7 separate regions of the Homo sapiens genome follow, and regions 1, 2, 3, 4, 5 and 7 are each reported to be linked to region 6. Evidence: microRNA targets listed by miRTarBase, many of them from high-throughput screens and not tested one by one. Region 6 holds a microRNA gene; each other region holds the end of a gene's coding sequence.

Region 1 (4,066 bases), not on the chromosome of region 6:
TAGCAGTGGGAGCCTAAGAGGAGAGATTCCCACGCCTTCCCCCTTGAACCCTTTATCCTGCTTTCTTCAGTGCCTGAGGTGGAGCCTCCCCAGGACAGCCACAGCCGGAAGACGGTTCTGATCAAGACCATTGAGACCCGGAATGGGGAGGTGAGGCAGGTCCCCTAATGCCAGGACCCCACCATTTCCCATATTATTTCTGAGCCCCAGCCTGGCTGTCGCTAATCTTACTTAGGGTGGGTAATTCTTGGGGAGAGACAGAGAAGGAGACAGAGAACGTGGATAGATAACCAGGAGCCTCTGCTGGTTACCCCAGGGAGTGGGGCTCTATGATCCAAAGGAGTAGGATGGAGGGTGGCGCTGAATGGCTTGTGCCCATCATATGCCCTGTCCCCAGCAGGTGGTGACAGAGTCCCAGAAGGAGCAGCGCAGTGAGCTGGACAAGTCTTCTGCCCACAGTTACTGAACCCCTTGGTCCGGAGCCTTGACTCTGCCCTAGGCCTGCTCAAAGCCCAAACCCTAAGACCACTCCTGAATTGTCTCCTCTCCCTCTGCATGTGTCTAAAAGGTGGTACCAGGCATCCCTTTCCTGGCTTATGGCCAAGCCCTACCCGGCCAGCAGTCGCTGGGCCTCTCCCTGCCCTGACACTTGATGTGACCTATGTGCTTCCCTTTTCATGTCCCGATAAGAAGCCAATGATCCCCCCTCAGGACAAATCTACTCCAGCCACGATGAGAAGTGGGTGAGCCAGGGTCTGAGTTTCACATTTGAACCAAATAAAATGCTGTCAAGAGAAAACTCTCCAGTGCATTTGTTTCTGTGGAAGTGTGTGTGCGGTACCTGAGGGGAGGAGCCTCGGCGGTGTTCTCCCTTTGTCTCGAGTCATTTCTTTTCTGGCTGTCACTCTCTTGGCATCAATATACCCTTCTAGGTTTTCTACCTCTGTCCATTCCTTTTCAGCTTTTGTCCCTCACCTGCAGCCTGGAATGCCCAGCCACCTGCTGGGTGCCTCACAGGCCACTCAAACTCAACCTGTCCCAAACAGAGCTCCTCACCTCCCTCTGCAATCATGCTCTTCCTCTGGATTCCTTGCCCCAGAAGAAGGCACCACTAAGACACCTAGTGCCCAAGTTAGAATTCACCTCAGCTTATGCACCCTTCTTTTCTTCACCTGACCCCAAATTCTGTGAAGTCTACTTCTTTTGTTATTTAAAAAATTTTAATAGGCTGGGCGCGGTGGCTCACGCCTGTAATCCCAGCACTTTGAGAGGCCGAGGCAGGTGGATCATGAGGTCAGGAGATCAAGACCATCCTGGCTAACATGGTGAAACCTTGTCTCTACTAAAACTACAAAAAAATGGCCGGGCGTGGTGGCTCACACCTGTAATCCCAGCACTTTGGGAGGCCAAGGCGGGTGGATCACTTGAGGTCAGGAGTTCAAGAAGAGCCTGGCCAACATGGTGAAACCCTGTCTCTACTAAAAATAAAAAAATTAGCTGGGTGTGATGGCGGGTGCCTGTAATCCCAGCCACTTGGGAGGCTGAGGCAGGAGAATCGCTTGAACCTGGGAGGCGGAGGTTGTAGTGAGCCGAGATCGCACCACTGCACTCCAGCCTGGGCAACAGAGCGAAACTCTGTCTCAAATAATAATAATAAGAAGAAGAAGAAGAAGAAGAAGAAGAAGAAGAAGAAGCCCGGTGGCCAGGCACGGTGGCTCATGCCTGTAATCCCAGCACTTTGGGAGGCCAAGGCGGGCGGATCACGAGGTCAGGAGATCGAGACCATCCTGGCTAACATGGTGAAACCCCGTTTCTACTAAAAAAAAATACAAAAAATTAGCCAGGCATGGTGGCGGGCACCTGTAGTCCCAGCTACTCCGGAGGCTGAGGCAGAAGAATGGTGTGAACCCAGGAGGCGGAGCTTGCAATGAGCTGAGATCATACCACTGTACTCCAGCCTGGGCAACAGAGCGAGACTCCGTCTCAAAAAAAAAAAAAAAATAGCCAGGCGTAGTGGCACGCGCCTGTAGTCTCAGCTACTTGGGAGGCTGAGGCAGAAGAATCACTTGAACCCAGGAGGCAGAGGTTGCAGCAAGCCGAGACCGTGCCACTGCACTCCAGCCTGGGCAACAGAGCGAGACTCCATCTCAAAAAAAAAATATATATATATATACACACACACATTTATTTATTTATTTATTTATTTATTTATTTATTGAGATGGAGTTTTGCTCTTGTTGCCCAGGCTGGAGTGCAGTGGCTCAGTCTCCACTCACTGCAAACTCCATCTCCCGGGTTCAAGCAATTCTCCTGCCTCAGCCTCCCAAATACCTGAGATTACAGGTGTGCACCACCATGCCCAGCTAATTTTGTAAAGTTTTTTTAGTAGAGACAGGGTTTCACCATGTTGGTCAGGCTGGTCTCGAACCCCTGACCTCAGGTGATTCACCCACCTCGGCCTCCCAAAGTGCTGGGATTACAGGCGTGAGCCACTGCACCCGGCCAAAAATAATTTTTTTTTTTTTTTTTTTTGAGATGGAGTCTTGCTCTGTCACCCAGGCTGGAGTGCAGTGGGGCAATCTCGGCTCACTGCAAGCTCCGCCTCCTGGGTTCATGTCATTCTCCTGCCTCAGCCTCCCAAGTAGCTGGGACTACAGGCGCCTGCCACCACACCCAGCTAATTTTTTTGTATTTTTAGTAGAGACGGGGTTTCGCCGTGTTAGCCAGGATGGTCTCCATCTCCTGACCTCATGATCTGCTCACCTCGGCCTCCCAAAATGCTGGGAATACAGGAGTGAGCCACCTCGCCCAGCCCAAAAAATAATTTTTAAATTTGCTTCATGAGATGGGGTCTTGCTATGTCACCCAGGCTGGTATTGAACTCCTGGGCTCAAATGATCCTCCTGCCTCAGCTGCCCAAAGTAATGCTAGGATTACAGGCACAAGACATCATGTCAGGCTTTTTTTTTTTTTTTGAGACGGTCTCACTCTGCCACCCAGGCTGGAGTGCAGTGGCACCATCATAGCTCACTGCAACCTTGACCTCCTGGGTTCAAGTGATCCTCCCACCTCAGCCTCTTGAGTAGCTGGGACCACAGAAACTTGCCACCACTCATAGCAAATTTTTCCATTTTTTGTAGCGATAAGGCCTCCCTATGTTGCTTAGGCTGGTCTCAAACTCCTGGGCGCAAGTGATCCTCCCACCTCAGCCTCCCAAAATGCTGGGATTACAGGCATGAGCCACTGTGCCTGGTATGAAGTCTACTTCTTAACTCTCTTTCAAGTCTGTCTGGTTCTCTCCATCCCCATTACCAACATCTTAGTCCAGGCCAGCATCATATCTTGCGTGGGTCACATTATCTACATTATCAATGGTTTCCTTCCCCTGGCCTGCTCTGCCACCTGCCCAAATCTATTCAATACCCTTAGTAAATCAGATTATGCCATCACCATCCCTGCCTCTGCTTGAAAATGTCTATTTCCTGACCAGGTGTGGAGACTCATGCCTGTAATCCCAGCACTTTGGGTGGCCAAGGTGGGAGGATGGTTTGAGGCCAGGAGTTCGAGACCAGCCTCAGCAACACAGAGAGACCCCATTTCTACAAAAATTAAAATATTAGCCGGGCATGGTGGCATGAGCCTGTGGTCCCAGCTACTTGGGAGGCTGAGGTAGGAGGATCACTGGAGCCCAGGTCGTGGTTGCAGTGAGCCAAGAAAAGTGCCACTGCACTTCAGCCTGGGTGATAAAGTAAGACCCTGTCTCCACAAAAAGAAAAAAAGAAAAAAAAGAAACACCCATGCTGTCTTCCAACTTCCAACTCCATTCCTCCATTCCGTCCTACCCTTGCCTTCAAGTCAAAATTCACATCTGAATTTAAGATGATCTTCTTCACTCAGCTATGGTGCTAGGTGCAATGAATAAGTCAGAGTCCCTGATCTCAAGGAATTTACAGTTTGGGGTGGGGGAGACAGGCAACATAAGCAGACAATTTCAACCTCCTGAGGAGTGCTGTCTGGGATACTAAGCAGATAGTGGTGTTGATATGAAGATAAGCACCTAAGCCAG
Region 2 (4,063 bases), not on the chromosome of region 6:
TTAGCCGTCTTACTCAACTGCCCCTTTCCTCTCCCTCAGAATTTGTGTTTGCTGCCTCTATCTTGTTTTTTGTTTTTTCTTCTGGGGGGGGTCTAGAACAGTGCCTGGCACATAGTAGGCGCTCAATAAATACTTGTTTGTTGAATGTCTCCTCTCTCTTTCCACTCTGGGAAACCTAGGTTTCTGCCATTCTGGGTGACCCTGTATTTCTTTCTGGTGCCCATTCCATTTGTCCAGTTAATACTTCCTCTTAAAAATCTCCAAGAAGCTGGGTCTCCAGATCCCATTTAGAACCAACCAGGTGCTGAAAACACATGTAGATAATGGCCATCATCCTAAGCCCAAAGTAGAAAATGGTAGAAGGTAGTGGGTAGAAGTCACTATATAAGGAAGGGGATGGGATTTTCCATTCTAAAAGTTTTGGAGAGGGAAATCCAGGCTATTAAAGTCACTAAATTTCTAAGTATGTCCATTTCCCATCTCAGCTTCAAGGGAGGTGTCAGCAGTATTATCTCCACTTTCAATCTCCCTCCAAGCTCTACTCTGGAGGAGTCTGTCCCACTCTGTCAAGTGGAATCCTTCCCTTTCCAACTCTACCTCCCTCACTCAGCTCCTTTCCCCTGATCAGAGAAAGGGATCAAGGGGGTTGGGAGGGGGGAAAGAGACCAGCCTTGGTCCCTAAGCCTCCAGAAACGTCTTCTTAATCCCCACCTTTTCTTACTCCCAAAAAAGAATGAACACCCCTGACTCTGGAGTGGTGTATACTGCCACATCAGTGTTTGAGTCAGTCCCCAGAGGAGAGGGGAACCCTCCTCCATCTTTTTTGCAACATCTCATTTCTTCCTTTTGCTGTTGCTTCCCCCCTCACACACTTGGTTTTGTTCTATCCTACATTTGAGATTTCTATTTTATGTTGAACTTGCTGCTTTTTTTCATATTGAAAAGATGACATCGCCCCAAGAGCCAAAAATAAATGGGAATTGAAAAAAGCTGCGAGATGTGTGCTTATTTAGGGAAACACGGCTGGCTGATGGAGGCATGGGGCCTGAGTTCAGTTGCACTGCTCTCCTTAAATTGACACTTAATATTGAGTCCCTGTCCTACGGATTCAACCAACTGGATATTGGGAAAAGAGTTGTACTGGACATGTATAGACTTCTCATTATTCCCTAAACAATAATAGTATAAATTATTTACATAATATTTGCATTAGATTAGGTATTACAAGTAACGTAGAGATGATTTGAAGTACACAGGTTATATGCAAGTACTACATTTTATATGAGGGACTTGGGTGTCTGCCGATTTGGTATCTCAGGGAGGTACTGGTAAGGACACTGACTGCTTTATAGACCCTCACATCATTGTTTCTGGTACCCAAACTGCTCTGAGCACCAGTCAGTCTTTACTGTAGTCTCTGACAGCTCACTACAGCCTTGATGTCCTGGGCTCAAACAATCCATCTCATTCTCCCAAGCAGCTGGGACTGTAGGCATAAGCCAGGTGAGCCAGTGCACCAGGCCCACCAATGAGTCTTAACTGGGGAAGGCATAGGCTTAGATGCAGGATCCAGGGATGGAAAATGGAAGCTGAGAAGAATGACAAATCACGTGTAACTGGTTTCCAGACCAGCATCCACATCCTCTGGGAACTTGCAGAAATAAATGCAAGTTTTTCATCCCACCCAGATGTACTGAACCATAAATGGTTGAACTGGCCTTGGCCACCCAGCCCAGGATTCCTTTGGGTTATGTGTACCCATGGCCATTTCCTGTGATCCTGTGGGCTTAGTCAACCTATGACACCAAGATAACTAGTGAAGCCCTGGTATGGTGGCTCCCACTTGTAATCCCAGCACTCTGGGGGGCCGAGGCAGGAGGATGGCTTGAGCCCAGGAGTTCCACACCAGCCTGGGCAGCAGTGAACCATCTAACAAAAAAAAAAGCTGGGCATGGTGGTGCATGCCTGTAGTCCCAGCTGCTGGGGTAGAGGGGGGTGGTGGTTGTTGGGGGTAGGGGGGTGGGGATTGGATGGGAGGATTGCCTGAGCCTGGGAGGTAGAGGCTGCAATGAGCCCTGACCCTACCCCTGCACCCCAGCCTGGGTGACAGAGCAAGACCTTGTCTTTTTTTTTCTTTTTTCTTGAGATGGAGTCTTGCTATGTTGCCCAGGTTGGAGCACATTGGCGCGATCTTGGCTCGCTACAACCTCTGCCTCCCGGGTTCAAGGAATTCTGCCTCAGCTTCCCAAGTAGCTGGGATTACAGGCACCCACCATCACGCCGGGCTAATTTTTGTATTTTAGTAGAGATGGGGTTTCACCACGTTGGCCAGGACTGGTCTCAAACTCCTGACCTCAAGTGATCCACCCGTCTCAGCCTCCCAAAAAGTTCTGGGACTACAAGCATGAGCCACCGTGCCCGGCCCAAGCCCAAGACCTTGTCTTTAAAAAAAAAAAAGGATAACTAGGCGGGATTGCTACCTTATGGTCCCATTCTAAAACAATCTGTACCATCTACTACCTCATACTTTTAAGTTCACAATGCAAGTCTCAAAGCTACCCTGAAAACAATAATTCCTTTTGCCATGTTTTCAGGAATTCTAGGAACTAGTATTATTCCCAACATTCCTTCTATTTTAGCATGCTTTTCTGACTATAATACACTGTTGGGGGGAAAAATTAACTCTAAAACTCTTGACAGTATATAAGTAACTTGCTTTTCTCCCATTCTAGAAAGCCTATTGTATGCAAGAAAGCCTATTGTATGCAAGGGAAGAAGCTACATTCTAGCATTCATTTTCTTTCTAATAGAGCCAGGATCTTGCTTTGTCACCCAGGCTGGAATGCAGTGGTGTGATCATGGCTCACTACAGCCTTAGACTCCTGAGCTCAAGTGATCCTCCCACCTTAGCCTCCCAAGTAGCTAGGACTATAGGCAAGAGTCACCATACCTGAGTCTAGCATTCATTTTTTTTCTCTTTTTTTTTGAAACAGTCTCACTCTGTCACCTAGGCTAGAGTGCAGTGGTGCGATCTTGGCTCACTGCAACCTCTGCTTCCCAGGTTCAAGTAATTCTCCTGCCTCAGCCTCCCAAGTAGCTGGGACTACTACTTGGCATGTTTCACCCTGCCTGGCTAATTTTTGTATTTTTGGTAGAGACAAGGTTTCGTCATGTTGGCCAGGCTGGTCTTGAACTCCTGACCTCAGATGATCTGCCTGCCTTGGCCTCCCAAAGTGCTGGGATTACAGGCATGAGCCACTGTGCCGGGCCAAGCATTAATTTCCAGTTGCTTCTGTTTTATTAGTACTTACTTACAGCAATTTATTTGGGTAGCAAAGTTGAAAACCTCCAGCCCATCCCTCAGTCTTGGTCAGGAAAATATTCTAGACAACAGGCTCAAACAGTCTGATTTAATTAGGAAGTTAAATAAGTTGAGGTGGGGTGGAGTGGGATCATCAGAAGGCTGACATGGGACCGCTGGAGTTGGCAATCATAGCAGTGTGAGGTTGGCAAGGGGAGCAACCCCCTTCAAGACAAGGCACAAACTATTTGGCAAGGAGAGATGAGGGGTGGGACCTCACTGTCAATGGACATGCTCAGGGAGGCCAGTGGGTTACATGCAACAGGAGGATCATTCAGGCAACTTCAGCTATGAGGCTGGGCATCTGTGAGGGCTGAAGGCTCAGGCTGTTCTCAAAGGCTTGTGATTCACCTGGCAAAAAGACAACAGTAGATGACACTTGGGAACATTCGGGAGGCTGAGGCCCCTACTCTCCCGGGCCCCAGTTTAGACGAATGGGCTATAGGCAGAACACACACGGCCAGGGTTCTTTCTGGTGCCCTACCACCTGTTTCCCCAAACAAAGACATCAGGACCCACATACAATAAATCACTGAAGAGAGGAGAGGGGGCAGAGCCTTGTTTGCACACTCTCCTTAGCTCTGAATATTCTACTGCAGGCCTCCAGGAGGCTCCAAGGAACCCAGCTTGAAGGTCATTGGTATGATCCAGTGCTTTTATTTACATACGCTTTTTTTTTTTCTTTTTTTTTTTGAGACGGAA
Region 3 (4,066 bases), not on the chromosome of region 6:
TGCTGGCAGAGGTGACTTGAGCAAGTCACTTAATCTTTCTGTGCCTCCATTCCCTCCTCTTTAGAATGTGGATAATAATAGTACTGCCCTCAAAGGACTGAGGTGCAGGTTAAACCAGTTAGTCTATGGAAGGCAATCAGAACTGGGCCTGGCTCCTGGTGAGGCTATGTGAGTTGCTATCATTAATTCCCCACTTGGCTAGGGGATTTATGTGGGGAACAGCCAGGAACACCTGGTGTCGCCCCTTCCTACCTAGTTGGGAGTGGTTCTTTCGGAACACTGACTTAGCATTCAGCCCCTCTCCCCCGCTTCCTCTGTAACGCAGCATTCTTTCTAACCATGGACCCCAAGAATACTGGCCATATTTGCTTGAGCCTGGAACAGGTACTTGGAGAAGGGTGGGAAGGAATCTGCAGGATTGCACCTGCCTGCCCCTCAACCCCACCCCCACCCAGCTCTGATGTCCCCGGGCCAGCATCCTGCCCCCGTCTCTTCCCACCCTGGGATCTGCTTCCTGTCTCCACAGTGGCTGCAGATGACCATGTGGGGATAGAGGCGCTGTAGGAGCCTGGTCATCTCTACCAGCAGCAGCAGCAGCGAGGTTCTAGCCCAGGAGGGTGGGGTGCTTCTTGTAGCCCTCAGCTCTCCGGTCTCTGCTGATGAAATGGGCTCCAGGTGGCAGTGCCCGGGTCCCAGGTGCCGTGTTTACTGCAGCAGTGGGACCTCCGTGCCCACTCCCCCAGCTCAGAGGCTTTCTCTTTTTTCCCCAACCCGGCTTCTGATGGCTGGCTTTCCCCCACCATCGCTCTCTCAGAGTATATTTTACTAAAGAGTAGTTGATGCTTCCCCAGGGTCCCCCTGGCTGGGGAGGCCAAGAATAGGGAAGGGACTTGTAGCCCGTTTCTTACCCTCCATGCTTGCTGTCCTGCTCACACCTACCTGCTGACCACCCATCCTGGCACAGCCTCTGTTTTCCTCCCCATCTGTGGATACTATTCTAATAAATAGCACATGCCATTGGCTTCCATGTCTCTGTGTTTTTATGCCAAGAAAAGACTGGCAAGGGTGGAAGTCACTTACCCAGGACCAAAGGATTGGGTAGCTCTCAGCCAAGGGTGATAGGGAGCATATAGAAATGTGCAGTTGTCACAATAACTAGAGGCCATAGTTGGCGTTTATGGGCAGTGCCAGATGCTAAGCACACAAGTCCCTCCCTGTGAAGAACTGTGTGGTGTGCCCTATGGTGGAGCGCTTCTACGGGGGCTGAGCCAGGGCTCCAGGACTCTCATCTGCTGCTTCAAACTGGGGTCCCCAAAGGTGGCACTGCAGGAGCCTCGAAGGTTAAAAATCTGACACCTGCAGCCAGCAGGTCACATAAATGAACGAACTGCCGGGCGCGGTGGCTCACGCCTGTAATCCCAGCACTCTGGGAGGCCAACGCAGGTGGATCACCTGAGGTCAGGAGTTTGAGACCACCCTGGCCAACATGGCAAAACTCCGTCTCTGCTAAAAATACAAAACTTAGCTGGCCGTAGTGGCACGCGCCTATAATCCCAGCTACTTGGGAGGCTGAGGCAGGAGAACTGCTTGAACCTGGGGGGTGGAGGTTGCAGTGAGACAAGATCATACCACTTCACTCCAGCCTGGGTGACAGAGCAAGACTCTGTCTCAAAAACAATTTAAATAAATAAATGAACAAATCCTCCTCGTGTGGGACTGGGAAGGCTGAGGACTGTGGCAATAGGTGAACTCGTTCCTGCCTTAAAGGTGTTCAGATTCAAATCATTATTATTATTGTTAGAAATTTGTTGCCTGTCCACTTACTAAAACCTCCCTTAACTATCCTCCACCTTATCCAGAGAAGCTTCTTCTTTTAGAAAATCAAGCAAAGCAACTAAGTCAAGACATGTTAAAAAAAAAAAAAGTATGAAAAGAAAGCTGTAAGGAAATACAAGGGGAGGGATTGTTAGATATGAGTTCTAAATTTCTTTTCAAAGAATTAATATGTCAGTATGTTCAATTCTTTGCCTTCTATTTTTAAACTTCACTTCCTCGTAAAGCAACCTTTTCAATTACCTATTCCACCCTGACTCATTCCGATCACCTGCTCCACCCTAATTTATTCCAATCACCTGCTACCTGCTCTGCCCTGACTCCCACCAAAGCACTCACCCTGTCAGTCTCTTTAAATTAGTCAATCAGAATTAGTTTAGCCTGTGCGGTCTAACCCTAGCCAATAGGGGAACGACACAGCAGCAGGGGCCACGTGCATCAGGGATAAGAACCCCTTCCCCTCCCTTGTCCAAATGTGTGCTCACCATTGTTCCATCTATAAGGGCGCACGCTTCTATATAGAAGTAACTTGCCTTGCTGAGAATTAAAAAGAAAATTAAAAAAAAAAAAGAAATTTGTTGCTTGTCAAGCTACTGTCCTTGCAGGAGGCATGGAAGAAACACTTATTTCTGGGTCCACCTGTTTTTGACCTCGGGGTCTCTGTCCCAGGTGCCCACACCCCAACTCCAGCCCCAGCCCCCTGCAGTAGTGAGAACACCCAGGCCACTCACAGCAGCCCCTAAACTGTACTTCTCCTCCTGTCCTTCCAGAGCCCTCCACAGCCTCCCCTTCTGGTTTCTGGCAGGGACACTGGAGCCCAAGCACATGCGCTTCTCAGCCTCTCAGGTAGAGACAGCACCCCCAACTTCCCCTAGATTAGAGATCTGTCATCCCCAATGAAGCTAAACCCTTCCTGTCTCTGTGTACCTGTGCAGCTTCCTGGGGTCGCTAGCTTCCTTCCACGTGCACTAAACCCAGCCCTTGTGTGCTTAGTGAGGCAGGTGGGATTCTGATCTTCCTTAATCTGGTGACTGATTGTCTGCACCAGCCCTGGCCCCTGCCTTCTTTGTGACTTCAAAGACTAAAGCTAGTCTGCCTGGATATAAAGCCGCCTTCCCTCCATTATCACCACCCCACGCCGCCTTCAGAGGAATCGTTTCCTGTCCTGTCAGCCCTCCCTGCTTCCTCTCCGTCTCCAGTCCTGCCTGAAAGAATAGGTCACACTCTCTTTGGAGCCTCTTTGAAAGACTGTTCTCCCACTTGTCGTCCTCCCTCTCTCTCTAAGAGATGGCAGCCACCACCTGCTCTCCACAGAGCTTCTCTGAGTGATGAGCAAAAGTCCCCAGAGAGAGCAGGGAGAGGTCAGTGAGAGCCTCAAGCTAACAGGTCCATGCTGGGCATGGTGGCACATGCCTGTAATCCCAGCTACTCGGGAGGCTGAGGAGTTTGAGACCAGCCTGGGCAACACGGGGACTCCATCTTTTAAAAACAAAAACCTAGCAGGTCCTTTGAGACTCTGAGAGGTCCCGGGCAGTCCGGATTGGTTCTGGGAACCCTAGGAAGATGCTGACCCCACCTCTTGTTCCATGGCCTAGGGTGAAATGCTGCCAACTTCAAGCCAGGATGGAAAGGAAGCAGAAAACTCTCAAATCAGGACTATCCCTTCCGGTTTGTAACAAAGCTGGTTACTCACGAACACTCTGTAAACATAAAATGAAGCAAACTTCACATAAGTAGAGAGTTTATTTGGGCTAAACTTAAGGATTGTAACCCTGGAGAATAGATTCAAATTATTCTGAATATACATCCCGATTAGCAGCAGTTACAAGTGGATTTTTAGGCTGGGTACAGTGGCTCACACCTATAACCCCAGCACTTTGTGAGGCTGAGGTGGGCAGATCACTTGAGGCCAGAAATTCAAGACCAGCCTGGCCAACATGGTGAAACCCCATCTCTACTAAAAATACAAAAAATAGCCAGGCGTGGTGGCACACGGCTGTAGTCACAGCTACTCGGGAGGCTGAGGCATAAGAATCGCTTGAACCCGGGAGGCGGAGGTTGCAGTGAGCTGAGATTGTGCCACTGCACTCCAGCCTGGGTGACAGAGTGAGACTATCTCAAAAAAAGAAAAGAAAAAGTTAGCCAGGACTGGTGGCGCACACATGTGGTCCCAGCTGTGTGGGGAGCTGAAGTGGGAGGATCACTTGAGTCCAGGAGGTCGAGGCTGCAGTGA
Region 4 (4,061 bases), not on the chromosome of region 6:
GGGAGGCCCAGATGGGTGGATCACCTGAGGTGAGGAGTTCGAGACCAGCCTGACCAATGTGGTGAAACCGTGTCTCTACTAAAAATAGAAAAATTAAGTGGGCATGGTGGCACATGCCTGTAGTCCCAGCTAGTGAGGTGGCTGAGACAGGAGAATCACTTGAACCCTGGGGGGTGGAGGTTGCAGTGAAACGAGATCACGCCACTGCACTCCAGCCTGGGCGACAGAGCAAGACTCCGTCTCAAAAAAAAAAAAAAGTGCTAAGACATAACGTTCAAAGTACATGAAACAAATGCATGACATAGCAAATAATACTAGAGTAAATATCCATGTCACTGCCATCTAGATCATCAAATAGGAGATTGCTGATACCCTAGAACTTCCTCCTCAGATGTCCCTTCCTGCTCCCAAATGCCTCACTGCCCCAGGGGTAGTCACTCTCCTGACTTCTTTGGCCATCACCATAACAAAGAAAAGCTTTGCCTCACTGGATAGTTACCACCCTTGCACGTATCCTTGAACACTGCAGTTTCGTTTTACCTGTTTTTGGACTTTCTGTGAATGGAACTGTACAGCGTGTACTCTCTTGTCTCACTTGGCAGTATGTTTTTAAGAGTTTTCCATGTTGATGAGTCATCCACATTGTGGTGCCTTCCACCCTCACCTTCTCTAGCCCAGCCGCGATGTGCTTGCTTCTCCCCCTCTTTGTGTCTCTTAATCCATCCTTGCTTCAGACCCCCGCCCTCCTGAGGCCTCCTCTTCCCCTGCGCCCTTGACTGGACTTCTCTTCCCCATAGCCCCATTGTGCTGACTGTGGCCAAGTGCTGGGATCCCTCTCCTCAGGCCTATTTCACTCTCCCCCGAAGTGAGTGACACTCAGGGAGGGGCCTGAAGTTGGGGGTGGGGGCTGCCCAGGAGGCTGGGGCCGGGCCTGTGGTCATGGGGAATGGGTGGGAGGAGGGTCCAGGCAGAGGTGGAACAGGAGGCTGAGTCAGGGAGGGACTGGGCTGGCTTTTGGGGACTGAGAATGGGTCATTTTGGTGCCATCTTTGTCCCAGATGAGCCCATCCAGCCAATTGACCCTGCTGCCTGGGTGTCCCATTCCGCGGCTCTGACTGGCACCTTCCCAGCCTATCCAGGTTCCTCCTCCATGAGCACCATTACATCTGGATCGTCTTTGCCTGATGGTGAGCCGCCAGCCCACCTCATCCCACCCTCCCAGCAGAAGGCTGTCCCGCAGTGGTCTGATCCATTGCCCTTGTGGGAGCGATCCCTGACTCTGGTTACCCGTTGTCTCCTCTGCCAGGCTGTGAAGGCCGGGGTCTCTCCGTCCATACGGACATGGCATCGGTGACCAAGGCCATGGCAGCTCCAGAGTCTGGACTGGAAGTCCGGGACCGCATGTGGCTCAAGATCACCATCCCTAATGCCTTTCTGGGTATGGCTGGGTCCTGGGCAGGTGGCTGGAGAAGGGGAGGAGGTGGTGACCAAAGCCAGGAATGGCACAGGCAGAGGCGAGAGCAGGAGTTGGAAGAAGAACCTGAGGCCTTTTTCCACTGTGGGTGCTCCCAGGCTCGGATGTGGTTGACTGGCTCTACCATCACGTGGAGGGCTTTCCTGAGCGGCGGGAGGCCCGCAAGTATGCCAGCGGGCTGCTCAAAGCAGGCCTGATCCGACACACCGTCAACAAGATCACCTTCTCTGAGCAGTGCTATTACGTCTTCGGAGACCTCAGTGGTGGCTGTGAGAGCTGTAAGTCCCCCTGCCCCAACTCTGGGAGTGTGGCTTTGCCTACCTTGTTCTGCCTCTCCAACCCTAGACCTAGCCCAGAAACCGCAGCCAGGGCCACCATGGATGGTCGAGCAGTGTGTGTCCCGCACTAGGTCCTGCACTGGCCGAGGATGGGGGCTGACGTCCACCCATGTGCTGCTGGACAAGCCATGTGCCAGGTGCAGGACTGTGTCCACCGGGGGAAGGTGCACCTCTTACCTGAGTCCCGCAAAGACGTGGGCTAGTGGCTGTGCCCCTGCCCTCATGGCAGAAGTAGATGGGAGTTTCTTGTCAGAGACCCTTGTGAACCCCTGTTTTGAGCCCCATCGTGGGTGGGTCTGGGAGAACTGTTCCCAGTTCCTCTCCATTCGGTGTCTTGGGGCCCTAGCCTCTTGAAGCAGTGATTTCTTCCTCTCTTCCCTTGCTTTCCAGACCTAGTCAACCTGTCTCTCAATGACAACGATGGCTCCAGTGGGGCTTCAGACCAGGATACCCTGGCTCCTCTGCCTGGGGCCACCCCCTGGCCCCTGCTGCCCACTTTCTCCTACCAATACCCTGCCCCACACCCCTACAGCCCGCAGCCTCCACCCTACCATGAGCTTTCATCTTACACCTATGGTGGGGGCAGTGCCAGCAGCCAGCATAGTGAGGGTAAGTCATCCCCACATACCTGTACGGCCAGGATCTGAGGGTGGATGAGAGGGGAGCCAGGGAGGAGCCTGGGTGAGGACTCAGTTGCCCCTCCCCTCCCTCCACAGGCAGCCGGAGCAGTGGGTCGACACGGAGTGATGGGGGGGCAGGGCGCACGGGGAGGCCCGAGGAGCGGGCCCCCGAGTCCAAGTCCGGCAGTGGCAGTGAGTCTGAGCCCTCCAGCCGAGGGGGCAGCCTTCGGCGGGGTGGGGAAGCAAGTGGGACTAGCGATGGGGGCCCTCCTCCATCCAGAGGCTCAACTGGGGGTGCCCCTAATCTCCGAGCCCACCCAGGGCTCCATCCCTATGGACCGCCCCCTGGCATGGCCCTCCCCTACAACCCCATGATGGTGGTCATGATGCCCCCACCTCCACCTCCAGTCCCTCCAGCAGTGCAGCCTCCGGGGGCCCCTCCAGTCAGAGACCTGGGCTCTGTGCCCCCAGAACTGACAGCCAGCCGCCAAAGCTTCCACATGGCCATGGGCAATCCCAGCGAGTTCTTTGTGGATGTTATGTAGCCCACTGTGGGGCCAGGCTGGGCCGGGCGCTCCTGGTGTGTGACTGGGTGTCCTGGCCGTCATGTGCTTGCTCTTACAGTGCCTGGGCTCAGCCTACCAGCTGCTGCCATACAGGAGATTGTGGCCACTGTGACTCTCACCAGCAGTGCCTGGTTCCTCCCCCTTCCCTCAGGGGTAGACAAGGGACCTTTGATTATTTTTAGCTTTGTTTTTTTATAAGCCTTTTTGGGGGTTAAAATAGAGTTTCTTACATTTTTGGGACTTTTTTAATAGGCATTTCCTCTTTTATATGAAGAATTCCCATCCATTGGGCCCCTTCTAACCCCAGAATGTGACCTCCTCCTCCAGTTACCCACAGCCCTGCCCTTTGCAGGGTTGGGGGTGGTCAGCGGTACCCCGGGGTTAGGCATCCTAGACAGCAGCCTGAGGAAGCTGGGAGATTTGGGCCATGTAGCTGCCTTTGTTACTCTATTTATTTTAGTCACTTGTATAAAACACCAAATAAAGCAATAGAGGCAAACTCCCCACGCCTCTGGCTCCTTTCTTTGGGAGGGAGGCAGGCAGCAGGGGGAAAGAACCGTCACACAGGAGCAAAGCATGACTGGCTAGAAATTTTTATTATTTGCGAGGCAGTAAGTGCTCTTGAGAGCAGGCACAGTGCTGGGAACACTAGGCCCCTTCGGGACAAACCAGGGCCTTAAGGAAAGGGGCTTCGGCTTTGGCTTGAGGGAAGGCACATAACTGGGACAGGCCCTGGCCGGGAGTATTCAGAAGCCAAGTGGGTTGCTGGTGACCACACCACCCCGCTCCACCAAGGCCTTGGAGATGCTTTTGAAGTTGCGGTAGAGCTCTTGCTGCCAGGGGTCAGACTGCAGGGCGGCCATGCCCTCTCGGATCCGAGCTGCAGCCTGGGGAGAGGGAAGGAGGGGTTGGGCCTGCACCTCCAGCCCTCACCTGAGCTTGGCAGCCCCGAGTCTCACCTCGATACACCAGGTGTCACAGAGCATTTTCTCATGCTGGGCCGTGGGGTGGCCCTCACTCAGGGATCTTGAGGCCCTGGCAGGAAGCAGGAGATGAAAATAAA
Region 5 (4,066 bases), not on the chromosome of region 6:
TCTTATGTTAAATGTTCTCACAAATAGCAAGAGTAAAGATTAGGAAAAGAATATAGGTGTTAAGTTTATGGAGATTTTCAACTTCAGATAATTTTTAGTGGAGATGTTTTACTTTCTTGAACTCAAAGATTATTATAAGAGATCTGAAATAAGTTTAAAAGGAGTTTAGTATTTTTAAAAGTCACCTCAAAATCTTGAGAAATATTGTGTGTATTTCTTCGTATACTTACAAGTTAATAGGAGTAGTGTAGATGGTATAAGAAAGGAATGAAACTCAGAAGGAAATACACCACATTGGCCATAAGAAATAAACCTCACAAATTTTATTTGTTTCTCTTCCAGATCCGACGTATCCTGAAGGGAAAGTCCATTCAGCAGAGAGCTCCACCGTATTAGCTCCATTAGCTTGGAGCCTGGCTAGCAACACTCACTGTCAGTTAGGCAGTCCTGATGTATCTGTACATAGACCATTTGCCTTATATTGGCAAATGTAAGTTGTTTCTATGAAACAAACATATTTAGTTCACTATTATATAGTGGGTTATATTAAAAGAAAAGAAGAAAAATATCTAATTTCTCTTGGCAGATTTGCATATTTCATACCCAGGTATCTGGGATCTAGACATCTGAATTTGATCTCAATGGTAACATTGCCTTCAATTAACAGTAGCTTTTGAGTAGGAAAGGACTTTGATTTGTGGCACAAAACATTATTAATATAGCTATTGACAGTTTCAAAGCAGGTAAATTGTAAATGTTTCTTTAAGAAAAAGCATGTGAAAGGAAAAAGGTAAATACAGCATTGAGGCTTCATTTGGCCTTAGTCCCTGGGAGTTACTGGCGTTGGACAGGCTTCAGTCATTGGACTAGATGAAAGGTGTCCATGGTTAGAATTTGATCTTTGCAAACTGTATATAATTGTTATTTTTGTCCTTAAAAATATTGTACATACTTGGTTGTTAACATGGTCATATTTGAAATGTATAAGTCCATAAAATAGAAAAGAACAAGTGAATTGTTGCTATTTAAAAAAATTTTACAATTCTTACTAAGGAGTTTTTATTGTGTAATCACTAAGTCTTTGTAGATAAAGCAGATGGGGAGTTACGGAGTTGTTCCTTTACTGGCTGAAAGATATATTCGAATTGTAAAGATGCTTTTTCTCATGCATTGAAATTATACATTATTTGTAGGGAATTGCATGCTTTTTTTTTTTTTTCTCCCGAGACAGGGTCTTGCTCTGGCGCCCAGGCTGGAGTACAGTGGCATGATCTTGGCTCACTTCAGCCTTGACTTGGGCTCAAGTGATCCTCCTACCTGAGCCTTCTGAGTAACTGGAACTACAGGTGTGCACTCCTCGCCTGGCTAATTTTTTATTTTTTGTACAGGCAGGATCTTGCCACCTTGCCCAGGCTGGTCTTGAACTCCTGAGCTCATGCCATCTGCCTGCCTTAGTCTCCCAAAATGCTGGGATTACAGGAGTGAGCCACCATGCCCGGCTGGCAGTTGCATGGAAGAGAACACCTCTTTATGGCTTACCCTCTAGAATTTCTAATTTATGTGTTCTGTTGAAATTTTTGTTTTTTTACCTTTATTGAAACAACAAAAAGTCAGTATTGAAACATATCTTCCTGTTTTCTGTTGTCAAATGATGATAATGTGCCATGATGTTTTATATATATCATTCAGAAAAAGTTTTATTTTTTAATAACATTCTATTAACATTATTTTGCTTGCCGCTGGCATGCCTGAGGAATGTATTTGGCTTTGATTACACACTAAGTTTTTGTAATAAATTTGACTCATTAAAAACCTTTTTTTTTTAAAAAAAAAAAAAAAGAAAATCTCATTAGTGAACTTATCTTTGCAGCTGAGTACTTAAATTCTTTTTAAAAAGATACCCTTTGGATTGATCACATTGTTTGACCCAGTATGTCTTGTAGACACGTTAGTTATAATCACCTTGTATCTCTAAATATGGTGTGATATGAACCAGTCCATTCACATTGGAAAAACTGATGGTTTTAAATAAACTAATTCACTAATATTATTTGTCTTACATGCATTTTCTTTTCCTAGTGCCTTATTTCCCTAGATAGAAAAAGTACTATTGATGATTTTAAATACCTTTGAGTTAGTTAATTTATGTTAATTTGGGTTTTTTGGAGAACATGTTTCCTGAAAGTATACAAGATTTAACATCAAAATCTATTTGCTAAGTTTACTAGGAGAAGTCTGTTAGGTTTTGAAATTATCATGGAAGTTTAATAGATGCTGTCGATCATTCACATGTTTAGATGCTTAAAAAAAAAAAAAAAAGCTAAGTGGGAGCAGTGAATCATAGGAATAACAGTTTGGAGATTACCAGGATCATCCTTAGAGAGATGTAAACCTGGGAAAGGTTCTTCCCTTTGCCAGCAAGCCATTTTGACGTGTGAGAACAAACACATCAATATCTGTCAGTATGTTGTTACAATTATTGCACATATATTCTAGTTCTTACAGCTGTTTTGAGAATCTGGTGAAAGCTATGAATCCTTTCCCTGGAAAATGCAAATATATGTATACACACAAATGCTGTGTGCAATATTTGGGGCTTCACAACCTTTAGAAGACCATGACTCACAAGAATCCACTTTAGTTTCATTTCTGCACATACTTTTCTTCTTTCGTATAACAAAATCTTGGGTAATTTGCTTTGCAAATGCAACTTGTTAACCAGAACAGCAGAAATGATGTACTCCCACTGAACATAGCCCTACAGTGAGCTTTACCCAAGTGAGCTTCTATGTTCTCTCTTAATCCCAAATTCTCTCATAGTTGAACCAGTATCTAGCAAGTATGTTTGTGTGTGCGTGTGTGTGTGTGCAAAGATGTAAATAATTTGAGGCTAAGACATATAAGACATTTCTTAGCCTTAAGATGTTTACGTGAGAGACATGGCATGTACTTTATTAGGTAAACTATGTTAAATAGCATTTAAAAAGAGATTCAGAAGGGACATTTCTTTCTGACTGGGGAGGATTCAAGGTAGAGCATTTGAACTGTATCTTCTGAATAGTTGATTTGGATGTTCATATAAAGGGAGGAGAGGCAGATGAAAGAAACAAACAGCATGAACCAAAGCATAGGCGTCTGTGGGAATAGCAGGTGATTTTAATATAGTTAGTTAGACTCTGGAAGTGGCCAATAAGGTTCATCTTGTGTTCCACCTCTGACTGGTAATATTTTTGAGTATCAAGTTGAGAAAGATCCTCAGGCTCGTAGGGGCTTCAGGAGAAGGTTGCTGGATTGAACCTTCAGGAGAGGTTGCTGTGATTGGTGCGTGATATCTGCCACAGGAATATGGGAAATGGCTCTTGATTGAATACATCTTAAAGCCTCACAGAAGCCAAGACTGTGTGCTCATTGCTGCAACTTCAGTGCCTAGCACAGTGCCTGGCACATGGAAATAGTTCATAAAATATTGGTTGAATGAACGAATATATGCCAATCCTGGTTAGAGTCACTGGTTTTGTTGGGGGAGGTGATGTTTTGAGCCAGAGTTATACTATTAATTACTAATGAATTATTGGCTATCATGGTTCTGAATTTAATTCTGCCACATGATTTCACAGTGACATGGATGATATGTTAATGAAAATGGGCATGGGCATAGTTGGACTCATTAAGGAAAAAAATCAGGCAGTCTGTCTTTGCAAAGGACTGTTAGTGCTGTAGTTTGATATTGACTAAGGAATCCCTACAAGAGTCAGAGACCAAATCTTCCAGCTCAATTTGTTAGTCAAATCAGTAACATTTAATATCCTTTCTATATTTTTACTTAATCAGGACAGGAAAATTTCCTCAAATGTCTCTGACTTTTAACAAATGTCAACTTAAACATACGACCACTAACTTCCATTTTCTGATAACCTCAGTTGTTCTGTATTGAATACGACCTCAGAGAGAAATCAGCTTCAGTCACTGGCTAAGTTTGTGATGGTTCCTCTGAGATCAGGCCTGGGTACAAGGTTTGAGATTACTTGTAACCATGCTACTAGGTTTTGGCTATACCTGCTGGTGC
Region 6 (4,066 bases):
TCTCTGGACGCGGCAGTATCCGCAGCGCATGCACCCTCCTCTGGACTTCCGCAGCCCAGACCTGCGCTTACAGTCATCGCGCCACCCCCTCCCCCCGGGCTGCGGGCCCCGCGCTCCGTGGGCTCAGGGTCCCCTCCGCGTCCCCCTGAAGCCTGGGGACGGAGGTCGCGACCGGCCGACTGGGGTCCTGTCCTCTTGTCACCTTGTATCCCTCGCATGCTCCCTCCCGCCTCGTGTCCCTCTCCCCACCCTCCCCCTCCTCTCTCCCGCCTCCCTAACACTGCGCTTTGATTCTGTTTTTCAGGGGCGCATTCTGGGGTCTCTGCGCAAGACCAGCTCTCAGCTCTCTCTCCTTTCCTCGGACTCTGGAGCGGGAGCGGGCCTTTCCCTCGGGTCGACCACGCCGTAGGGGACGCCGTGAAAAGAGCCGTCGCGCCCGCTGCCTCCTGCCCGCTGCGCAGAGGGCTCCGCCCGTAGAGGTCAACTTCCCTCACCCTTTTCTCTCTCCTGCTTGCCCTCCCTCCGCCCGGCCCAGGCGCTTCCAGCCCCAGACTGTGGCCACTGGCTGAGGAGTGCGAGTCGGCTGCGCTGCCCTGAGCCTAATCCCTCTTCCGGGCCCAGACCCGAGGTCCGCGCTCCTGGGCAGTGGGGAAGCTTTAGTGAGCAGGCTTTTCTCTCCGCAGCAAACTTGTAGCCAGACCAGATGGGCCGCCCAGCTCTCTCGGGACTAGGCAGGTGCGGATGAGTTAATTTTTCCGCATTACAAAGAAAGATGACCCAGCCCGCCCTTGGACTCTCTTTTCCCAAAATCTCCCAACCAAACCCGCGGTAACGTTATCAAAGGACACAGAGCCCAGGCATATCTGTGTGTTTATCTTACAGGCACACACGCATGGTTTTCTCTTTTATATGCTAGATTTCATCCCTGACAGCAGAAAATGATTGGCAATGGTTATGACGGAGAACATGCAATAGCGTGGTCCTTAAAAACCTGCCATTCCTTACAAGTGCCTTAGAAAGGATTCAGGGCGAACCAACTGGGTTAATTGCATTCAGTAAAATAACACGATTACAAAATTAGATCTGTACCAGAGGGGTAATTAACTTGGATCCACGCCGTCATTTGAAAACTAGATTTATAGGCTTATGTATGTTTTTAGGCGTGTGCTGTAAATGGCATGGAGATATATGCATATGTATACGCAGGCACACGCACCGTCTACACTTCCACGGAACAGACTAATTAACAGCGGCTCTGGCAGATGTGTCAGAGATGAGCAGAGACAGGAGCTGGGCTTATGAGTTATGACTCTAGGGGTAGAGACTCAGAGCGGAGAGAGGGGGATGGGCAGGGAGAGAAGAGTGGTAATCGCAGTGGGTCTTATACTTTCCGGATCAAGATTAGAGGCTCTGCTCTCCGTGTTCACAGCGGACCTTGATTTAATGTCATACAATTAAGGCACGCGGTGAATGCCAAGAGCGGAGCCTACGGCTGCACTTGAAGGACACCAAAGCATCTCAGGGTCAGAAAGGGGAAAAAGCAATTGCAGGGAATTTAGGGGGTAGTAAAAGGAACCCATCTCTTGCCGCATAAATGCCCCCCACCCCCACCCAGGACTGATTCTGGAAGCAACCTAGTGTTCGAAAGGGAAAGGCTCCTACTTTTCCATTACAGCCGCGGAAATCCGCAGGCAAATCTCCGAGGAGAATTTTAGGGAAGCTTCATTGACAGCTGTCTGGAGAGCAGTAGTTCCCGCCTGTGCAAATATTCCAGAGAGTTAAATCATTTAGAAAGCACTAGTTCTTTCAAGAACAGGTAGTGTGATTGTCTGCAGTCCTGGGCCAAGCTGGGAAAACAAAACAGCAGAGAGAGGTGTAACATTAAATAGCGTCCTGACCACACTGCGCAAGAAACAGCAAATGAAACGTCCAAACTTTGGAAAGATCTGAAGAACACTTGCCGCCCGCATTTCCCCTTGACTTCTCCCTTTTTCTTCCCAATCTCGAGGCGTTCATGCCTGGCTTTAAGACGCCAAGATAACTCTCTTGTTTTGGCATTGTCGCAATGTCCAAATCGGTCAAAGGAGTGGGATAAGGTGAAAGGACCAGGTCAGAAACTTTAGAAGGACTCGGTAAATTAATTTGTTTGGAAGCCAGTGAGGTGGACTATGTTGAGGTAGCAGTTCCGCACCACGACTTTGGAGCCAAAGAAAAACCCAGGCCGAAAAAGCGAGCCTTGATGTCTTTGTTCTGCCTTGGCCTGCAGGGGTTGGGAACAAAGGAGAGGAGCTAAGAGGATGCACCAAAGTAGCCGCGCCCTCCCTGCCTGGCGCTGTCCGCGGTGCTGACCGTGGCCCTTTTCTCTCTCCGTAATCAAACTGGAAAAGCAATAGGACCGTCCCGTCCCTACTCAAAAGAAGAGTAGGATATTAGGTAATTTGAAAAATAACATTTAAAAAGAGAAAAAGGTCACATACAGCAAAACAATATTTTACTGAAATCGTTCCCTCAAGCTGGTTGCTACCCTTGCCTGACACTTTTTGGTCTTCACGTAGGAATGCACACATACATACATTGTAAGTGTATGGGGAAACCATTTCCACTTTATTTAGGCTGAAACCTAAATCGCAGGATTGCAAGAAGGAAATTGAGGAGAATGAAGGCTTTATTATTATCCTTTTCTTTCTTAAATCATCTTCCTTAAAACAGAAACATAAGGTCCTCAGCCGCGGATTTTAGTGCTTACTTGGTCACCAAAGGGACGTGCAATGGACTCAAGTGTGGGCCTCGAGGCTTAACTAGGAAGGGGTGGGTCGGGGACCCACCAGGTGAAACAGGGCAGGAGCCCATGCAGCTTGCCACCTTCGGCCAGGCCTTGCAGCCCGGCAGCCTTAGTAGACGGGTACAGAGGGCTGAGCTCTGCAGACCGCTCTGCTGCGCAGGAGCCTGCTCGGCGCATCCCAGCCGGCGGGAGGCACTGGAGGGCCAGGAGGCCTGAAACCCGCACTGCGGAAAAACCGACCTCAGCCACATCCTCATAGCTCACGCGACGGAAAGAGGCAGGGCGGTTTACTAAATCTTATGCAGTGAAAATTCGCCTTAGAAATCGAAGGTTGGATGAGTCAGTATTGATATATTCAAAAATCTAAATTTCTTAGCATATTTCATCGTTCTTAGATGTTGAAAGTATTAAATGTAAACAATACAAATTTAAATTCCCTAAGTAATGAATCAAAATGGCAAGGGAGAGAGAGAGAGAGAGAGACGGAAAATCAACCAATTCGTAGCCACCCTGGCTGGCTATTTCTCAAAAGAAATTTCTATGCATTTGCTTGAGTTTGTCTATAAATTCACAAACATAAAGGGTGTTAAAATTAGTAACAGACAAAATAATTCAGGTTGGACAATAGAGACAGCAACACCGATTTTGATCCAGGTATAACAATGGGCCATGCATTGACAATGACCTAAAAGACATGTGTTCATTAAGTTATTTTTTTTACACGGGATGTAGATGTATCATAAAATTCATGAAATAAAGCGGCCAGGTGCAATATCCTCAGAGAGCTGCCTTCTCACCCCCTGCCTCAGGGCGGATTTTATCTGTCCTCGAATTTTAGAACTCTGCAAGTCGGGTCTTTCACATTCATCGATTACTTTGGTTTATATTTAATTTTATCCAATTTCGGAGTGGGTGGGTAAAGCACACTGGAAAATAGGGGCTGCTCGAATTACAAAATTTAAGGATTGGGAATATTCCTCTTGTGCCAATTAAAAGCAGTCGTTGGAAGCAGAAATGAATTTAAAGCATTACACGTTATCATGGCGGCCTTGCTTTTTCCTTCCAGTATTCATCCAATTGCGCTGATCTCCTGCATCCACATCTTGCGTAATCCACAAAGCAGCTATGGTCCAGGGCTGCAAAATCGTCCTGCCTGATTCCTTTAGAATTCATACTACCTCAGAGGAGCAAACCTAATCCCCTCAGCCTAATCCTACCTGTTTAGGATCATCTAAACTTGTCCTTCAGAAAGCTTGATCAGTTTAAAATTGCTTTCTAAATAGA
Region 7 (4,066 bases), not on the chromosome of region 6:
TGTTTCCTTCCTGTAGTTCCGTATCTATTAACTAGCCATAATGGGCTCAACTCTTAAATTCAGAACTATTTCAGCACTGACAACATTGCTTATACCAAGTCTGTATGAGTAAAGTGACAGAAACAGTCAAGCAATTATTTGGTGATGTTCATCAGTGTGAACAGTTTCTACACTCAGGGGCTGAGATGATGTAGAAGGGATATTGTTGGCATCAGAAATTCTGGAAAGTTTTTTTCCTTGCTGAAGTTCAGTGATGTTTGAGCAGGTAGACAGAAAAACCCTAACCTTCCCTGACACAGTGGTGCACAGAAGGATCTAGCAAAATGGTAGACGCTTGAGATTAAATCCTGAAGAGGCTTTAACTGAGCAAATATCTGCAAATTTAGCTCGGTCCAGAAAGAGTATTCAGCAGGAGCAAGCTGACTAGTGGATCTCACATGTGCATGATGTCAGGAGGCCCTTCCCCCCTCCGTTGTTTTCTACATCCCTCCAGCAACTGAGAAACCATGGGGTAGAGTGAAAAAACAGGTGCTTCATTCAGACAGGCTTTTGCTTAAATCTTACCTCTACAGCATGCCAACTGTGTGAACCCGGGACAAGTTACTTAACCATGGTGGCTTCAGTTTCCATATCTGTTTAATGAAGAAAGTAATACCGATATTCTGAGAGCTGTTCTGAGGATTACACTTAAAAATAAAATGCATAGTGTGGTGCTGAGTGGACAGCAGATGATCAGTAATATGACATTGAATGCTGATGAAATTATTCTTGGGGTGACATTGAAACAGAACATCTACAGCCATCCAAATAAGGTAACACTACAATGTATGGACTACTTCACATGCATATATTGTGCTTTTTTGGTTGCATTCATAGTGTGTTGCCCTTCAAACTTAAAGGCTTTAGGTAATTGATACTACACGGATAGAAAAACACTCAATTTTACTATATCATTCTCCCCATATTTTCAGTCAGGTAATACTGCATTGCCTGAAGAAGATTATATGAAGGCTGAATGCAAAATTATATAATAGATTTAAAATGCACATATACTAGCAGTATAGTGTATACATGTGTGATTAAGTTCAAATGAGATCTCTGCATTCCCTTGGTTCATCAGCATGTTTTCATCATGTAATACAGAATGCCACTTCATCCCCTGGCAGCTGCTTCATAACTCTCTAAGTCTTGGAATGTTTTAAACTAGGCCTTTACATTTATTACCTCTGTGAAGCTCCTTCGTATTTCATTTGTCTGAGTTAAAGATCAGTCCCTGATTTCCTTTCTTCATTAACAAAATACTTAATACTTATTATTTGGTAATAGATCTTCCCAAATGACTATGTTTGCTGAATGCTAATATATTTACTGTTCAGGAAAATAAAACCTGCAAGACAGCGAGGTCTTGTAATATGGGAAAGTAAGTTATTAGAGTGAGGGTTTGTGAAAGCCAGAGACAATATTAGAGCAGAGATCAATTTTGAATTGTTTGCCCTGTCAAGATGAGCATTTTAACATCTAAAGATGCCATTAATTATTTTCTAATGAATTTGACAGTATTAGGATTACAAGTTATAGTCAAGGATACTGCCATCCTGTTTGTCCTAATATTAAGCAATGATATTTGTTAAGGATCCCAAAATGTCTTCAGTAAAAGAGGCTGTCAACATGTAAGGAATACATCACCAAGGCAAATGATATGTGGCCTCATGGCATTCAGTTAAAAATAATGGCAACAATTTACAACAATCACTTTCAAATCAATTTTGATGCAAATTATTTTTCCATTAAGTAGAAACAGAACATCAAAGTGCACAACAATATGTATAATATGCTGCATTTTGTGTATAGAGGGTTAAAAAAGTAAAATGTGTGCTTCAGAAACTCTAGAAAGACATGCACAAAACACTCACACAGCCCAAACAATGGTCATGTGTAGTCAGGTGACAGATATGGGTGGATGGGGAGTGAGGCCAACAGCTTTAGGCATTTAAAAATTTTGTTTGATTTTGGAACCATGCAAATGTATTACCTATTTACAAAATAAGATTTTATAATATGCCTTAATGACACTCCATTGGATGGATGTTCATTTTCTCTTACACTTCTTTAATCCAATTATGCTTTTCTAGAAACTGGACACCACTGATCCAGGTCAAAGAAAGAATGATATGTAAAACTAAATGAGATATTTCCTGACGTATTTTTAATAATTATAAAATTGATGTCATATTAATAATTTCTCCAGTGACTTTTGAGATACCTACCAACCCATATTAAAGGCAATTTTTGAACTGTTCTTGGGTCAGCTTGATCCCAAAGCTGAAGAGATTGAGGAAGGATGTTTCTCCCAGATGGTAAATTATTGAGTAAAGAAATTGCTCAGTTTAATCACTTATGAAGGCTAGGTTTTCCAGTATAATAAAACAAACAGCATACCATAATCCCTTGTTAACTTTTCAAGCTGCTCAGCAAGCATGTTTTGGTGAATATGAACAGAAACATATCAAGTGTGAATAAAAGGAAACAACAAAACCTTGTCAGTGTTTTTGAAAAAGAATACTGCTATACCTGTGTTTTATTTTAAATAAACAGGTTCTGTCATATTTTATCTTCTTGCCAGCAAATGAAGGACATTGTTTCATAAAGCTTCTAAAATGTACATGAATATTTAATTAAATCATATTTCCTTGAGAAAATAAAGTTCATTCGCATTTATAGCAGACAGTTGTGAGGAGCTCATAATTGTCATAAGACCAGGGTAGCCAGTACCGGTTGCTTGTGGAACAAAACTCCTCAATTTTTAAAACTTTTTTTAAAAAATAAACATACAATCATAGGTATTCATTTACTTTAAAAATTCTAAAGATGAAGAAAATTATTGTTTATATATTTAAGTCCTTGTATAAATTACAAAACTCAAGTTTATGTTACAGAGTCCCTTCCCCATAGGAAGCATAAAGCACTTTTGTGGTACCTTTCACCAGTAAATATTTGTATCACATTGAATTTGAGAAACCAAATAAAAGTCGATATTGCATCTTTAAGCCCCAAGAGAACATTCTTCTAAGCTGTCTCTTGTGATGAATGCGTTTCAAAAGTCATTTGATTGCTATGATTTAACTCAATCTCAAATAAAGTTATATAAAAGTAATAACATATTGACTTCAGTAGAAATCTGAAACATCAGTGAACTGCAGACTCTTCTTGCTTGAGGTCAACAAACACCCTTAGGAAGACAACCAAGAGTAGTTTAAGACCAGGACAACAAAATAAAATTATAACAATAATAATAATAAAATAACAATAATACAATAAAAATAACAACAACCAACAATGAGGTAAACTCCCCTTAAAAAAGGCAAAATGTGTTGCCTGGACTGTCAGGAGAGAGTTCGATTGTACCTGACACCTAAATGTTTTTCAAGCCAGAGTTCAGCCAGTTGCATGGTTGAGGCGAAAGTACTTGCCTTGGATCCTAAGCACATCTTATACTGCTTAGGGTCCAAGTTAGGATCACAATGAACTGGATGGAAAATATGCACCACTCCTACTTCTTGGCTTCTGAATGGCCTTAAGCCAGATAGAATGACTTTATTGTAGAGATCTACATCTTCTAGTCCCCAGCCTTGTATTGAGGTATCAAATCCACCTGCACCTAGAAGATCACTTTTGTAAATACAGGTGATGCCATATCCATAGTCTCTCCAAAATCCAGTCTTTTTTGAGAATATGAAGTAATCATCAGTGGGAGGATTTCCCCCGTTTGTTACCTTTGGGTCATACTGGCTAAAGATGATGGGATAGTACACCTGTTGTCCCTGAATTGTATTGTCTCTACATCGTTGGAGAAAATCTTCTCTGAAGATCAAGTCAACATCACAAAATAGCAGCAAAGTGTCATTGTCAAACTGGGCAGAAGCCATTTCAAGACCAAGACCTCTGGAAAACTCTCCCTTCATTGGGATCAGGGTCATTTCTGCTTTGGGGTACTTGTTCTGGTACCCTTTTATCAGCTCAATATGCTTGCTGGAGTCTTGGCCAGAATCCCTACTGAAAAGGATAA

What was found. Region 6 holds the annotated microRNA hsa-miR-124-3p (UAAGGCACGCGGUGAAUGCCAA, at 1,456-1,477, shown strand). A microRNA usually pairs through its seed, bases 2 to 8, with sites in the 3' UTR of a target mRNA and lowers its output. Matches are read on the target gene's strand: a 7mer-m8 pairs with bases 2 to 8, a 7mer-A1 pairs with bases 2 to 7 and ends in A, and an 8mer does both.
Region 1: miRTarBase lists PRPH as a target of hsa-miR-124-3p. The part of its 3' UTR that is shown has no 7-base or 8-base seed match.
Region 2: the mRNA of FLOT1 is a reported target of hsa-miR-124-3p. Seed matches in the 3' UTR shown: 7mer-m8 at 3,536-3,542.
Region 3: miRTarBase lists CAPN11 as a target of hsa-miR-124-3p. The part of its 3' UTR that is shown has no 7-base or 8-base seed match.
Region 4: miRTarBase lists ACADVL as a target of hsa-miR-124-3p. Seed matches in the 3' UTR shown: 7mer-m8 at 3,708-3,714.
Region 5: the mRNA of NFKBIZ is a reported target of hsa-miR-124-3p. Seed matches in the 3' UTR shown: 7mer-A1 at 473-479 and 7mer-A1 at 1,448-1,454.
Region 7: miRTarBase lists CHSY3 as a target of hsa-miR-124-3p. The part of its 3' UTR that is shown has no 7-base or 8-base seed match.

Annotation. Positions count from the first base shown.
Region 1 is chr12:49,297,888-49,301,953 of GRCh38, forward strand. PRPH (peripherin) reads left to right here. Exons shown (of 9, transcript NM_006262.4): 8 at 71-150; 9 at 401-799. The coding sequence ends at 466. All of the region lies in intron 4 of TROAP-AS1 (TROAP and PRPH antisense RNA 1), which reads right to left. Among named protein-coding and RNA genes, the nearest start is that of PRPH, 4.8 kb to the left of the region's middle.
Region 2 is chr6:30,724,434-30,728,496 of GRCh38, forward strand. It overlaps FLOT1 (flotillin 1), which reads right to left. Exons shown (of 13, transcript NM_005803.4): 13 at 3,276-3,712. The coding sequence ends at 3,683. TUBB (tubulin beta class I) reads left to right here. Exons shown (of 4, transcript NM_178014.4): 4 at 1-989. Among named protein-coding and RNA genes, the nearest start is that of TUBB, 6.1 kb to the left of the region's middle.
Region 3 is chr6:44,183,380-44,187,445 of GRCh38, forward strand. It overlaps CAPN11 (calpain 11), which reads left to right. Exons shown (of 23, transcript NM_007058.4): 22 at 326-384; 23 at 527-1,022. The coding sequence ends at 553. It overlaps LOC105375072 (a long non-coding RNA gene), which reads left to right and starts at 2,604. Exons shown (of 3, transcript XR_926835.2): 1 at 2,604-2,679; 2 at 3,429-3,501.
Region 4 is chr17:7,224,781-7,228,841 of GRCh38, reverse strand. It overlaps ACADVL (acyl-CoA dehydrogenase very long chain), which reads right to left. Exons shown (of 20, transcript NM_000018.4): 19 at 3,958-4,033; 20 at 3,576-3,885. The coding sequence ends at 3,745. DVL2 (dishevelled segment polarity protein 2) reads left to right here. Exons shown (of 15, transcript NM_004422.3): 10 at 798-865; 11 at 1,059-1,187; 12 at 1,307-1,438; 13 at 1,573-1,752; 14 at 2,203-2,421; 15 at 2,529-3,500. The coding sequence ends at 2,977. Among named protein-coding and RNA genes, the nearest start is that of MIR324, 3.4 kb to the right of the region's middle. RefSeq lists an enhancer at 3,387-3,886.
Region 5 is chr3:101,858,976-101,863,041 of GRCh38, forward strand. It overlaps NFKBIZ (NFKB inhibitor zeta), which reads left to right. Exons shown (of 12, transcript NM_031419.4): 12 at 343-2,047. The coding sequence ends at 396. Among named protein-coding and RNA genes, the nearest start is that of NFKBIZ, 11 kb to the left of the region's middle.
Region 6 is chr8:64,377,755-64,381,820 of GRCh38, forward strand. MIR124-2 (microRNA 124-2) reads left to right here and starts at 1,395; the gene lies at 1,395-1,503. It overlaps MIR124-2HG (MIR124-2 host gene), which reads left to right. Exons shown (of 3, transcript NR_109792.1): 2 at 305-735; 3 at 3,849-4,066.
Region 7 is chr5:130,185,109-130,189,174 of GRCh38, reverse strand. It overlaps CHSY3 (chondroitin sulfate synthase 3), which reads right to left. Exons shown (of 3, transcript NM_175856.5): 3 at 2,541-4,066. The coding sequence ends at 3,384. Among named protein-coding and RNA genes, the nearest start is that of CHSY3-AS1, 280 kb to the right of the region's middle.